3 linked regions of the Homo sapiens genome follow. The protein of the gene in region 1 interacts with the protein of each later gene in a biochemical or structural test. Each region holds a gene or a part of one and is shown in the gene's direction. Other genes may lie near its edges. The genes, in order: SLC8A1, S100A5 and S100A7.

Region 1 (3,616 bases):
CTGTCAGAAGTTCTTTTTAAGAGCTTCTCTTTATCAGTCCTTCTGTTGCTTCATACCATGGCTAGCACTGGAAGAGACATCTGATATCACCTAGTTTTGCTTTGTGTTTATATTTTACAAATAAGCAAATGGAGGCCATGTAAAATTAAATGATTTTATAAGACTGAAATAGGAGATAGTAGAATCCAGTTCTATGACTCTGAAATCATTTCATCCAAGTTACCTCTTTTTCTTTTTCTTTTTCTTTCCCTGTGTAGAAAGCCTCCAGAAATTTGCCTGTGTTTTCTGGGCCTCAGGAATTCCTGAATGTCTAATAAGGATTCTTCAGGGTGGAAAGGGAACTACGACTTTTCATCTAGTTTGAGAATACTGACTAACAAAATGAACCAACCTAGGGTCCTCAGACTAAAGGTCTCTGAGGTCAGCAGACATATTCATGATAGTTATAACATTCGTTTGAATTCAAAAGATGGCATATTTGACATTGTGCTAATTACTTAGCCTTTTCCGTGTTTACTTTCTTCATCTATTAAATGGGAATAAAAATATTAAAAAGGCTTGTGGTTTTGTGTGAGGAGTAATAAATTAATATTAGTAAAATATTTGGAACAGTTTCTGACACATGGGTGCTCAGCAACTGTTAGCTCATTACTGAAGATATAAATGGTGAGAGAGAGCCTTGTTCCTGCCTGTGTGCCCCCAGGTGAATACACTGATTGGTGTGGTGAAGGGGTTGCCACAGGAAGGTAAAGGAAGATAAGTACACGCAAAATGGCATATACCGAAGATCAGAGAGCTGATTTTTTAAATGCCCAGATAGTCAGTATTTCTGGCTTTGTGAACTATAGGATCTGTCATAATTTATCAACTCTGGTGTTATAGCAAGAAAGCAATCATAGATGATATATAAATGAATGGGCACGGCTGTGTTCCATAAAATGTTACTTGTGGACACTGAAATTTGAATATCACATAATTTTCACATCATGCAATATTCTTTTTTTTCCAGTAATTTTAAAAGGTAAGAAACATTTTAATTTTGTGCGCCTTACGAGAACAGGTAGGAGGTTGACTATGTCCCATTAACCATAGTTTGCCAACTCTTGACACACACAGTATAGATTATGAGAGACGCAAATGAAACATTGATGGGCTTGGGGAATCCTAGCAATTGGTGTTGGTGTAGTGTGAAGAGAAATGGCCTAGAAATTCACAGAATTTGTTTTAGAGCCCAGCTCCATCACTTCTGAGATATTTGGGTTTGAAATGTCTCTTTCAGTTATCAGGCCCCAAGTTTTCTTACTGGGAAAGGTGGGGGCTAGGGAGACAGATGACTTTTTAATTTTACTTTTCTTTAAACAGGGTCTCACTCTGTCACCCAGGCTGGGGTGCAGTGGCATGATCATGGCTCACTGCTGTCTCTACCTCCTAGGCCCAAGTAATCCTCCTGGCTCAGCCTCCTGAGTAGCTGGGACCACAGACATATGTCACTGTGCCTGGCTAATTTTTTAATTTTATTTTTGTAGAGACAGGGGTCTTGCTATGTTGCCCAGACTGGTCTTGAACTCCTGGGCTCAAGCAGTTCTTCCTCAGCCTCCCAAAGTGCTGGGATTATAGTCATGAGCTACTGTACCTGGCCTAGATGACGTTTAAGGGCCTTCCTAGCAATCAAAGTAGTTTTATAAGGGAAATTTGACATTTGAGATGGGTCATGGAAGATAACCATCAAAGCATTAGAAAAGATGATGTGGTACATATTTGGGTAATTTTCATTTAGTAGCTCAGCTGACTACTAGCTGATATATTGACTAACAGTAAACCTGCACAGATGGACAGGTGTTATATTATAGATGGCACTGAATGCCAAAGTGTAGGATTCGAATATCACAGCTGCAGATTGTTAGCAGAATTTCCCAGTTTTACAGATGATACTAAGAGAGGGAAAATGACTTCTCCAAGGACATATGACTGGTCAGTAGAGCTGAGACCAGCACTCATTTCTTTTAGTCCCTAGACCAGTGAACCTTCCATCTACCACATTGACCCTATAAGTGTGGTAGAATGCAATTAAATGCAGTTGCATGGCTCTGACCTCAGAGAGAAAAAGTCTTGTATAAATTATAGAAGCTACTTTTTGTCCCTTCCAAACATGATCTCATACCCCAGCATATCTAAGAAGGTACGTCTGTGAATAATCCTGTTACAGAGAAGGGTAATTACAAAAGTGTCCACCTAAGACCTTACAATTCAACAACCTTTTGGCTGGTTTCCTGCAGAATGTCTTTTAAATCTCAGCTTAGATGTTATTTTTCAGCTGAACTTTTTCTAATACTCTGGTAGGTGAAGTCCTCTGTTACTTAGTTTTATAGTCACATTTTTACTTCCATAGCCATTTATTCGAGTTAATAATTATGGATTTCTTTTTTTACTTTAAGTTCTGGGATATATGTGCAGAGTGTTCAGGTTTGTTACATAGGTATAGATGTGCCATGGTGGTATGCTGCACCTATCAACCTGTCATCTAGGTTTTAAGCTCTGCATGCGTTAGGTATTTGTCCTAATGTTCTCCCTCCCCTTGCCCCCAACCCCTCAGAAAGCCCCAGTGTGTGTTGTTCCCCTCCCTGTGTCCATGTGTTCTCATTGTTCAACTCCTACTTATGAGTGAGAACGTGTGGTGTTTGGTTTTCTGTTCCTATGTTAGTTTGCTGAGGATGATGGCTTCCAGCTTCGTCCATGTCCCTGCAGAGGACATGATCTCACTCCTTGTTATGGCTGCATAGTATTCCATGGTGTCTATGTACCAAATTTTCTTTATCCAGCCTCTCGTTGATGGGCATTTGGGTTGGTTCCAAGTCTTTGCTATTGTAAATATTGCTGCAATACACGTATGTGTACATGTGTCTTTATAGTAGAATGATTTCTGTTCCTTTGGGTATTTACTCAGTAATGGGATTGCTAGGTCAAATGGTATTTCTGGTTCTGGATCCTTGAGGAATTGCCACACTGTATTCCCCAATGGTTGAACTAATTTATAATCCCATCAACAGTATAAAAGCATTTCTGTTTGTCCACAGCCTCACCAGCATCTATTGTTTCCTGACTTTTTAATAATTGCCATTTTGACTGGTGTGAGATGGTATCTCATTGTGGTTTTGATTTGCATTTCTCTAATGATCAGTGATGATGAGCTTTTCTTGATATGTTTGTTGGCTGCATAAATGACTTCTTTTGATAAGCGTCTGTTCATATCATATCCTTTGTCCACTTTTTGATGTTTTTTCTTTTTTTTTTTTTTTGTAAATTTAAGTTCCTTGTAGATTCCAGATATTAGACCTTTGTCAGATTGGGTAGATTGCAAAGTTTTTCTCCCATTCTGTAGGTTGCTTGTTCACTCTGATGCTAGTTTCTTTTTCTTTTTTCTTTTTTTTTTGAATTATCACTTTTAGTAAAAAGATTTATACATTTGTTTGTTTTTTTAATTTTATTTTATTATTATTATACTTTAAGTTTTAGGGTACATGTGCACAATGTGCAGGTTAGTTACATATGTATACATGTGCCATGCTGGTGTGCTGCACGCATTAACTCGTCATTTAGCATTAGGTATATCTCCTAA
Region 2 (4,409 bases), on another chromosome or scaffold:
TGCCCTCTCCATCCACCCTCCCTGGGAGCGCCCTCCCTGGGGCCTCCACCCAGGTCACGCTCTCCTTCAGAGATGCCTACTGCATAGCAACCAATCCCTGCTGCCTCTCCAATCTTGCCAGCTGGGGGTGGGGTGGAGTGGGGAGCAGTGGGGAGGCCCCCCAGGCTGGGGTGGGACTGCAGCAGTGATAGGTACTACACCCTGAGCCCAGGTCTGTTCTTGGACTGGTGGTAGAAGTATGTTGTTCTACTGTGGTAGAACGATGTCTGAGTGTCTCCTGGGATACAGGAAACTCTCCCTGGCCCCTACTTCCTCCTTGACTGCAGCCTGAACCTGAACCCCCCTCCCCAATCCACAACCTCTACCCCAGTGCTGGGCCTTAGCCCTTCGCTGGACACCTTCCCTATTCCTGATTCTCAGTCCTCCATGCCAAGAGTCTCCGACGAGCCTTTCCTGTGAAGAGCAGTGAGGCCTAGAAGAAATCGTTCATTTAAAAGCCCTTTAAAAACCTCTGGGCCCATATTAGCTCATGACCTTGACCATATCCTTCGCAGAAAATATCTTCCTCCACTGATCCCCATCTCAAGGGCTGTCTTCTCTACTCCTGGAGTGGGTGGCAGGATGGGTGGGAGGGGCCCGATGTGGAGAGCTTCCTAGGACACGGGGAGATGGTGCCCTGTGTTTGTCCCACACTTCTGAGGTTTTCTTTCCAGGACAGCCTGGTTTCCCTTCTTCGGCTTATTGTTCCATCAGATTTCAGATTTTGAGTTCTGATTTTTGGTCAGAAGAGTAAAGTTTCTGGGATTGGGGACGTGTGTGCTATGGGAACTCAGTGTGTCCCCAGCCCTTGTTTGTAAACAAGGAAGGTGAGATTGGCAGAAGGGGTTTCTCCCCAGCTCCATCCCGGGAGGCTCTGACGTGGGCATCCTCAAGTCCCCAACAACTTCTCATGGGCCCTTTCTCTCCCCTGGATTCCTAGGGACAGAGATCAGGGAAATAAAGGCAGAAGGCAGTGAGAGGGAGGCTATGCCTGCTGCTTGGATTCTCTGGGCTCACTCCCACAGTGGTAAGTCCTTCCTTCCTATGTCTCTGTTCATCTGATATCTGGTGGGTCACGCTGGATGATGAGGGTGACAAGTGGTGGTGACCTCCACCAAGGAGGCCTGGCCCCACAAGCGGGCATGCGCTCAGGGAGAAGAGGGCAGAGCCTTTGGAATTTCTTGAGAAATGGCTCTGGGGTGGAGGTGGGGGTCTGGACTAGCCAGGATGCTCCTGCAGGTGCACAGAGTCCCTTGCCTTCAACTGTGGTCCCAGCTGAGTCTCCTTGAGGTGGGAGAGGCTGAGGTTTTTGTGGTGGGAGAGGAATGATGGGTCTGGTTCAAGAATGGCAGGGAGGGCTTTGGGCTGGAGGTGAAGACTCTCCACAGATTTAACCTGCAGCCTTCAAGTTCCGTGGGTGTTGCCTCCTTCCTCCCTGAGGGGGAAGTGGTTTTTGAGTCTGAGTCACTTGAGCTCCATCTGTCTCTTCCCTTGGCTGAGGGTGGCTGTGCTATTGGAATCCAGGCCCTTATTCAAGCGTAGCCTCTGGATCCAGGTTTTGGAATGATCCTGGAGATTTCAAGAGGCCCCCTGCCCTCCCTGCCCGCTGACCCGTCTCTGTGTGCACTGCTCTGGGCCAGAGTCTGGAGACCAGCTGGGCCAGCTCAGCTCACCTCCCTGCTGCTCCTTGTTGAGACCCCATCACCCAGTTCCAGCCCAGCCCCCTCTCAGCCCTGGACTCTCTCTTTGCCCTGTCCCCGACTTTAATAATGGGACACTCCTCGATATCAGGTGATTCAGGCACTGGGGGAAAGGCTGGTGAACTGCCTGTGGAAAACCAGTTCCTAAGCTGGAAGAAGCAGAGAGAAAATCGTGACCCTTGATCTGCTCCACCATCTGCCACCAGGGCCTTTTGAGGAGGTCGTCTTCTCATCTTTCTGCCTCAGGCCTACTTTTCAACAACTCCCCAGCAGGAGAGTCTGTGGTCTCCTTTGGGGTCTTGCTGTTCTCCTTGTACCAGCAGCTCCAGAGTTTGTTGTGGGTCTCATTGTAACCTGTACTGATATAGATGGGCGCTCTTGTTAGTGGATTTCAGTCTCATCCTGGGTTCCAGTCTCTTGTTCTTTGAGGGAGGGGCCTCAGAGGTAGGCTAGTGCTGCTGGTGGTGACTTCCTGAGGAATGGGATCTTCCCCTCTCCCTCTACAGAGCTGCACACTGTGATGGAGACTCCTCTGGAGAAGGCCCTGACCACTATGGTGACCACGTTTCACAAATATTCGGGGAGAGAGGGTAGCAAACTGACCCTGAGTAGGAAGGAACTCAAGGAGCTGATCAAGAAAGAGCTGTGTCTTGGGGAGGTAGGTGATTGTTCCCTCATCCTCCACCCCAAAGTCTGAGTACTCCCTCTGGGGGACACATACCTACCCTCAGGATCCTCCAGCCTAAGCCAGGGGCAGGGTGGCCAAGGGCTACAGACAGAGACAAAGGAAGATGGTGGGGATTTCGGGCCAGCAAAACTCTAGCCCTCTGTGAAGGAGAATGGGTCAGGGTCTCACTGAGAAGGAGGAAGGGCTGAGTCTGGAGGGTTTAGAGAAGGAGATTGAGGAGCCTTCGATGGTGGGGCCAGGCTCTCCCAGCAGTGGCAGAACCTGTGCTAGGGGTCATGGGTGGTGAAGGGATGCAGGGTGTCCAGGTCCAGCTGTGTACAACTCAAGTGTAGGGACTCTGCCTGATTCTTCTCTGTGTGCACAGCATGGCCAGGGCTCTCTGATGGTGCTGGCACTCAAACTGAAAGGTTAACTTGTAAACATAGGGTAGTGAGGAGACAGAACTGGTTCTCACCAGATGGAGGTGGTGGGAGGGAGGTGACTGACAGAGGGGAAGGCCCATGAGGTTATTATAATACAATATCCCCGAGGATAAATAAATAAATAAATATATATATATATATATATATATATTTTTTTTTTTTTTTTTTTTTTTTTTTGAGAGAGTCTCGCTCTGTCACCCAGGCTGGAATGCAGTGACATGATCTTGGCTCACTGCAACCTCCGCCTCTCAGGTTCAAGCGATTCTCCTGCCTCAGCCTCTTCAGTAGCTGGGATTACAGGCACGCACCATCACGCCCAGCTAATTTTTGTATTTTTAGTAGAGATGGGGGTTTCACCATGTTGGTCAGGCTGGTCTCGAACACCTGACCTCGTGATCCATCTGCCTCGGACTCCCAAAGTGTTGGGATTACAGGCGTGAGCCACTGCGCCTGGCCAAGGATAAATATTTTTGAGACAGAGTCTCACTCTGTCACCCAGGTTAGAGTGCAGTGGTGCGATCATGGCTCACTGTAGCCTTGAACTTTCAGGCTCAAGTGATCCTCTTACCTCAGCCTCCTGAGAAGCTAGGACTACAAGCAAATACCACCACGCTTAGATAATTTTTAAAATTTTTTGTAGAGATGGGGTCTCACTATTTTACCCAGGCTGTTCTTGAACTCCTGGCCTCAAATGATCCTATCGCCTCAGCCTCCCAAAGTGCTGAAATTACAGGCATGAGCCACTGTGCCTAGTCTTATTATTTTTATAGTTAAAAAAAATCAATGCTCAAATACATCAAATAACTTGCCTAAGGACAATCCGCTAGTGGGAGGCTGAGCTGGAGTTCTGGGCCAGGCCTGTGAATCATCCTCCCTGTTTCCTTTAAAATTTAGCCTGGGTGCCTCTCCATCTATCACACCTTGAGCCCTGGTAGGCCCTCCCAGAAAGAAGGTCCACAGTGTGCCACATGGGCAGGGGACAGAAGCAGGTATGGGCGTCCCCAGGCCTGATCTCTGGCCTTCTGCCAGGCTGCCTGCATCCTGGAGGTTAATGAGGGCAGAGGGAGGGGCCACAGGTCCAGCAGGGATTAATTACAGAAGGAGAGACGCCCAGAGGAGGGCCTGGCAATAACAGGAGCCCAGGCTGGGGACTAGGATCACGTGACAGACAAGCAGTTTCCGCCTTTGTAAGTCCCAATGTCTCCTGTGAAAACCTGTAGCTGACGGCAATGATGAGGAGACATCAGGATCTGCTTGTCTATATTTTCTTCCTGTTCCACCCAAAGGACCCTGACTCCATCGTCCTAATGGAGCCAGGCTGGGACATCAGGGGACTGAACAACAGTGCACAACCAGGCTCCAGGCAGGCCTCTTGCACAGCTCTCCTAGCAGGGGAGGGATGCAGTGGCTTCACAGCCCCAGTGCACTGCTCTCATTGAGAGACATTTTGTCCGGGGTTATTCTCACCTAGTCCTTAGAATGGGGAGAGAGTCACTCAGAGACTTGGATAATGCTCAATGCCACATAATCAGCAAGGTGTTCTTTTTTTTTTTTTGAGAA
Region 3 (4,357 bases), on another chromosome or scaffold:
ATGTAGCTCCCACTTACACATGAGGTTGCACAGTATTTGACTTTCTGAGTAATTTCACTTAAGATAATAGCCTCCAGTTCCATCCATGTTGCCGCAAAAAGCGTGATTTCATTCTTTTTTTATAGCTGAGTAGCATTCCACTGTGTGTGTGTGTATGTATCTTTTGCTGTTAAAAGTAATATTGCCATCACATGGGGAACTGGGAGAGGGAGAAACAGGTCCCCCTGGTTACATAGGTACTGACGAGAAGGAAGTTGAAGAAAGATGATGGGTGGAGAAAATAGGTCCCACCTAGGGAGACATCACATCAGCTCTGTGGAGCCCCAGAGTGCTTAAAGGGCTGGCACTAAATGAACCTGGAACTCTCTTGCACCCTAAAAGGAACATTGCAAGGGGGTAGCAGAAAAAGTCCATTTCAGTGATTCATCATCTCCCTTTCCTCACCATGCCCCAGGGATTCCCATGCCTTCCCAACCCTCTTGCCCCTACCTGGGTCAGCCTTTCCACAGCAGGTTAGGGCACATTATAGCCAAGGGCACAACTCCCAACTCCTACACAGGCTGTTTTGCATAGGAGGAGGAAAAACACTGAAGACTTTCTGGGAAGTTAGTGCCATGGGGCAGGAAAGAACTTTTCCCACTCCCTGCCTCCAGGCTCATTCCATGGGGGGGTCACTCCACCACTCAACCTAGATAGTGAGGCCCCTGACCCCAGTCCCCCCACCTAATTCCAGGGCTTCTGTGAGGGGCTGACCAATGGTTAGCAATGAAGTAACCCTGCTTCCCTCCCTGGACTTTGAGTTCCCATAGGGCAGACCCTGATGTGACCCAAGACCTATAGCACAGGGGATAAGAGTAAGGATTTGATTCAGGCTTTTCTGAGTCCATATAATGATTTGTTGTGTTTACTAGCTGAGTAAACTTGGGAACATCTCAACTTCTCCTTTCCTAAAATAGAGATTGAAGCACCTCTTAGGACTATGAGGGTTGAGGAGGATGCAGGAGCAGCAGGTATCTTGATATCTAGACATTAAAATGCTCAGTCAGCGGTGGGGGTCATAGAACAGGCTGTCATAACAAATGTGTGGAAGGATAAGGGGAGGGAACAAACAAGACCATGCTGCCTTCAGGAGTCTGAAACTCCATCCTCTTTGGGTCCAGAGGCCCAGTGCTCTTTTCTCCCATTTTCTGACCTGCTACTACACATGTACCGCTGCCTTACCCTCAAATCAAGGTTGAGCCAGAGAAGACTCCAGGTGAGGTCTCTGGGGTGGGGTGGGACCTGGTGACCTGGGACACTGGCCAGAAATCCTGAGCACAGCCTCCTGGGTGTGTCCCACCCACCTGATGTGGGGCAAGCCTCCAAGAAACAGATGACAGAGGTGGCCCCAGGCCTCCCAGCCCCTGGGAAGAGCCAGGCTGAGCCTTATAAAGGACTGCTCTTTGTCCAAACACACACATCTCACTCATCCTTCTACTCGTGACGCTTCCCAGCTCTGGTAAGTCTCACCTGCCTCTTTGCGTTTTCTAGAAGTGCCCAGTGCCTGGCCTGCCATGCTGCCTGTAGGAAGGGAAAGGGCTGTGGACAAAGACTCAGAAGCCTGGGTCTAGGCCAGCTCTGCCATTAGCTGGGCTGTGTGACCTTCACTTGACCCCAAAAGCCCACGTCTGTATAACCAGGTGGCTGAACCAGACCTGTCCATTGCTCCTTTGGGATCTCCTGAGGCAACTCCTGTGGAAATGTCCCCAGTGGGACCTGAGCACAGGACCCTCCCTGTCCTCTTCCTCCCTGGATTCATCCTCCTGTTGGGGTCCCGGTTGCTAAATCCCCTCCCCAGCTCCAGCTCCACAGAGGGTGGAGGGCTAGGGGTCCCCTGTGAATGCTTTGGAGGCTCTCCAAACCCCCAGGCCTGGGACCCCGACACAGCATAGCCCTGGCCAGATGGCTTGCCCCTACCTGGGTAAGGTATTGAGAAACCAACGCTCCGTCACTCCCTACCACAACCTGCAAATTGTCAGTCACCCTCTGGGCACAGGGCTTGCCCTCTGGCCTTGGCCTCAGATTCAAAAAAGCTCTGGGTGGCTCCTCTTAGTCAGTTGCCGGCATGGAGCTTTCTCCTGCATTGAGAGGTGTTGGGGGTTTATTGTCAGACACCCATATGCATTAGCCAAGGTCCTTTCCTGGTTCTTTGGAAAGTGTGGGAAGTGAGAACTGCACTGTCCTATTTTTCAGGCTTGGGGTGCAGGCCAGCCCAGACTGACTACTGGCTGAAAGATCTGCTTTGGGAAGTCAGACATTTTTATTTAAACAGTCAAGGCTTGGTGATTCAGAGGGTGCAGATAATTCCCAAGAGCAGACATGAAGTGACTCCCACCTCACTCCCACCCCGTCCAGCAGCTTAAGAACCAGAGAGTTATTTCTGTTCCTTGTAACAGAGGCCATTCCTGTTTCTCGTTCCCAAGGGAATACAAGAAGGGCCCCCTGTGCTCGGGACAGGACTGTGTTTCCTGCTAACACTCACGTCCACGCTCACATGTGCACCTGGAGCCTGCACACACCGTGTCATGCAGGGCTTGCACTTGAGTCAAGGTGGGGCCCACGGTGTCTGGTTCCTGAAGCAGCCGAGGAGGGTCAGACACCAGATCACCAAGGCCATTGTCCTGCCCCCATGACTGTCACCCCGACTGTGAAGCTGGAGGAGATGGATTTGGTGCTCTTTTAAGAGTGGGGTCTGCCATGTGCTGGCTGAGGCTGGGGTGTCCCAGCTTAGTTCTTCCATGTGTTGCTGGCGCCCGACTCTCCCTGCTTCTCCCTCTCTGAAGCACTGTCCACAGCTGGACTTCCGCCATCCACCTGCATCTCCTCTTGGCCCTGGCCAGGATGGGCCAGGTCTCAGACTTGGTCCTACCCTCTCATTTTTGAGCAACTTATCCCATCACATTAAAAAAAAATTGAGTTCGTTCTGCTACACCTTATCCGTGTTTTTACTCTGTCCTCAGCCCTCCTTCCAGCACTCCCAAATAGAGACCCTAACTTAAATGAAGGGAAAAAAATGATTGTCTTTATTTCCTGAAGGCTTTTTGAAAGCAAAGATGAGCAACACTCAAGCTGAGAGGTCCATAATAGGCATGATCGACATGTTTCACAAATACACCAGACGTGATGACAAGATTGAGAAGCCAAGCCTGCTGACGATGATGAAGGAGAACTTCCCCAACTTCCTTAGTGCCTGTGTGAGTCGGTGTCTAGCTTCTCAATGTTGGAGGATACATTTTGCTATGTGGCCTTGGACAGATCACCCTCACCCTCTGATTAAAAAATTTCCCATTTGCAAATAGGGCTTTATTACTTGGATCATATGTGAATCTAAGGATGGTAGGCAAAAAAGTATGAAAATGGGAAAGAGTTATACAGATATAAAGGAGGTTATTAGATGGTCAGCAAAGTGTGCAGCTTGAGGGCAGTGCACAGTCCCCTCCCAGCACTCACTGACCCTCTCTCTGTGAGACTGAAACTCACATGCTCAGGTCCTGTTTCCCAAAGGCCCCACATCAACATCCCTGAGATTACTGGGAAAGCACTAGAAGTTCCATTGTTAGTAGAAATCAATAGCCCTCTTTGCAATAAACAAGACTCATTAGCAAATCTGAAAAAAAACTGTGGGCTACTAGGTACCAAAGGGTCTAGATGACCAAGAGTAGGATACCCAGAAGATGAGTTTGGTGGAAAAGGAGAAGAAAGGAGAGGAGGCCAGAGAAAGAAGAGAACAAAAGCATGAGGGCCAATTTTGAGGCCCTGGGGTAGAACTAAGGTAGGCAGTGCCCTTAGAGGCTGGGACGGGAAAGAGTGAGGCTGGGGCAGGGGACTGCTCTCCCCAAGGTCACTTAACAGAGCACCTTGGGACAGGACCTGCCTCCCATCCTGAGGTGTGAGACAAAAAGACTCCCTAGAGAACTCCAGGGATAACACTCACGTCCTCACCCCAACTTCACCCACTCACCCTGTGCTCTCAGCCCCGCCACCATGCCTGTGCAGATCTAGGTACTTGTCTGTATCTCTGCCTCCTCCTCTCCCTCCCAGCCCAAAACTTGTTTGTGATTGAATTTTTCTATTTTGTATGTTTTTCTCTTCACAGGACAAAAAGGGCACAAATTACCTCGCCGATGTCTTTGAGAAAAAGGACAAGAATGAGGATAAGAAGATTGATTTTTCTGAGTTTCTGTCCTTGCTGGGAGACATAGCCACAGACTACCACAAGCAGAGCCATGGAGCAGCGCCCTGTTCCGGGGGCAGCCAGTGACCCAGCCCCACCAATGGGCCTCCAGAGACCCCAGGAACAATAAAATGTCTTCTCCCA

The links.
Region 2: the proteins of SLC8A1 (region 1) and S100A5 interact in a biophysical measurement, tested with the Homo sapiens proteins (one large-scale study listed by IntAct).
Region 3: the proteins of SLC8A1 (region 1) and S100A7 interact in a biophysical measurement, tested with the Homo sapiens proteins (one large-scale study listed by IntAct).

Annotation. Positions count from the first base shown.
Region 1 is NC_000002.12:40,442,078-40,445,693, reverse strand, and holds part of SLC8A1 (sodium/calcium exchanger 1 isoform A precursor), read left to right. Parts: intron 1-3,616. UniProt on the Homo sapiens protein: Mediates the exchange of one Ca(2+) ion against three to four Na(+) ions across the cell membrane, and thereby contributes to the regulation of cytoplasmic Ca(2+) levels and Ca(2+)-dependent cellular processes.
Region 2 is NC_000001.11:153,538,042-153,542,450, reverse strand, and holds the start of S100A5 (protein S100-A5), read left to right. Parts: upstream 1-1,516; 5' UTR 1,517-1,830; exon of another isoform or gene 1,831-2,245; coding exon of another isoform or gene 2,246-2,259; coding exon 2,260-2,397; intron 2,398-4,409. UniProt on the Homo sapiens protein: Binds calcium, zinc and copper. One subunit can simultaneously bind 2 calcium ions or 2 copper ions plus 1 zinc ion. Calcium and copper ions compete for the same binding sites.
Region 3 is NC_000001.11:153,457,749-153,462,105, reverse strand, and holds the start of S100A7 (protein S100-A7), read left to right. Parts: upstream 1-1,454; 5' UTR 1,455-1,498; intron 1,499-3,075; 5' UTR 3,076-3,092; coding exon 3,093-3,233; intron 3,234-4,135; coding exon 4,136-4,300; 3' UTR 4,301-4,357.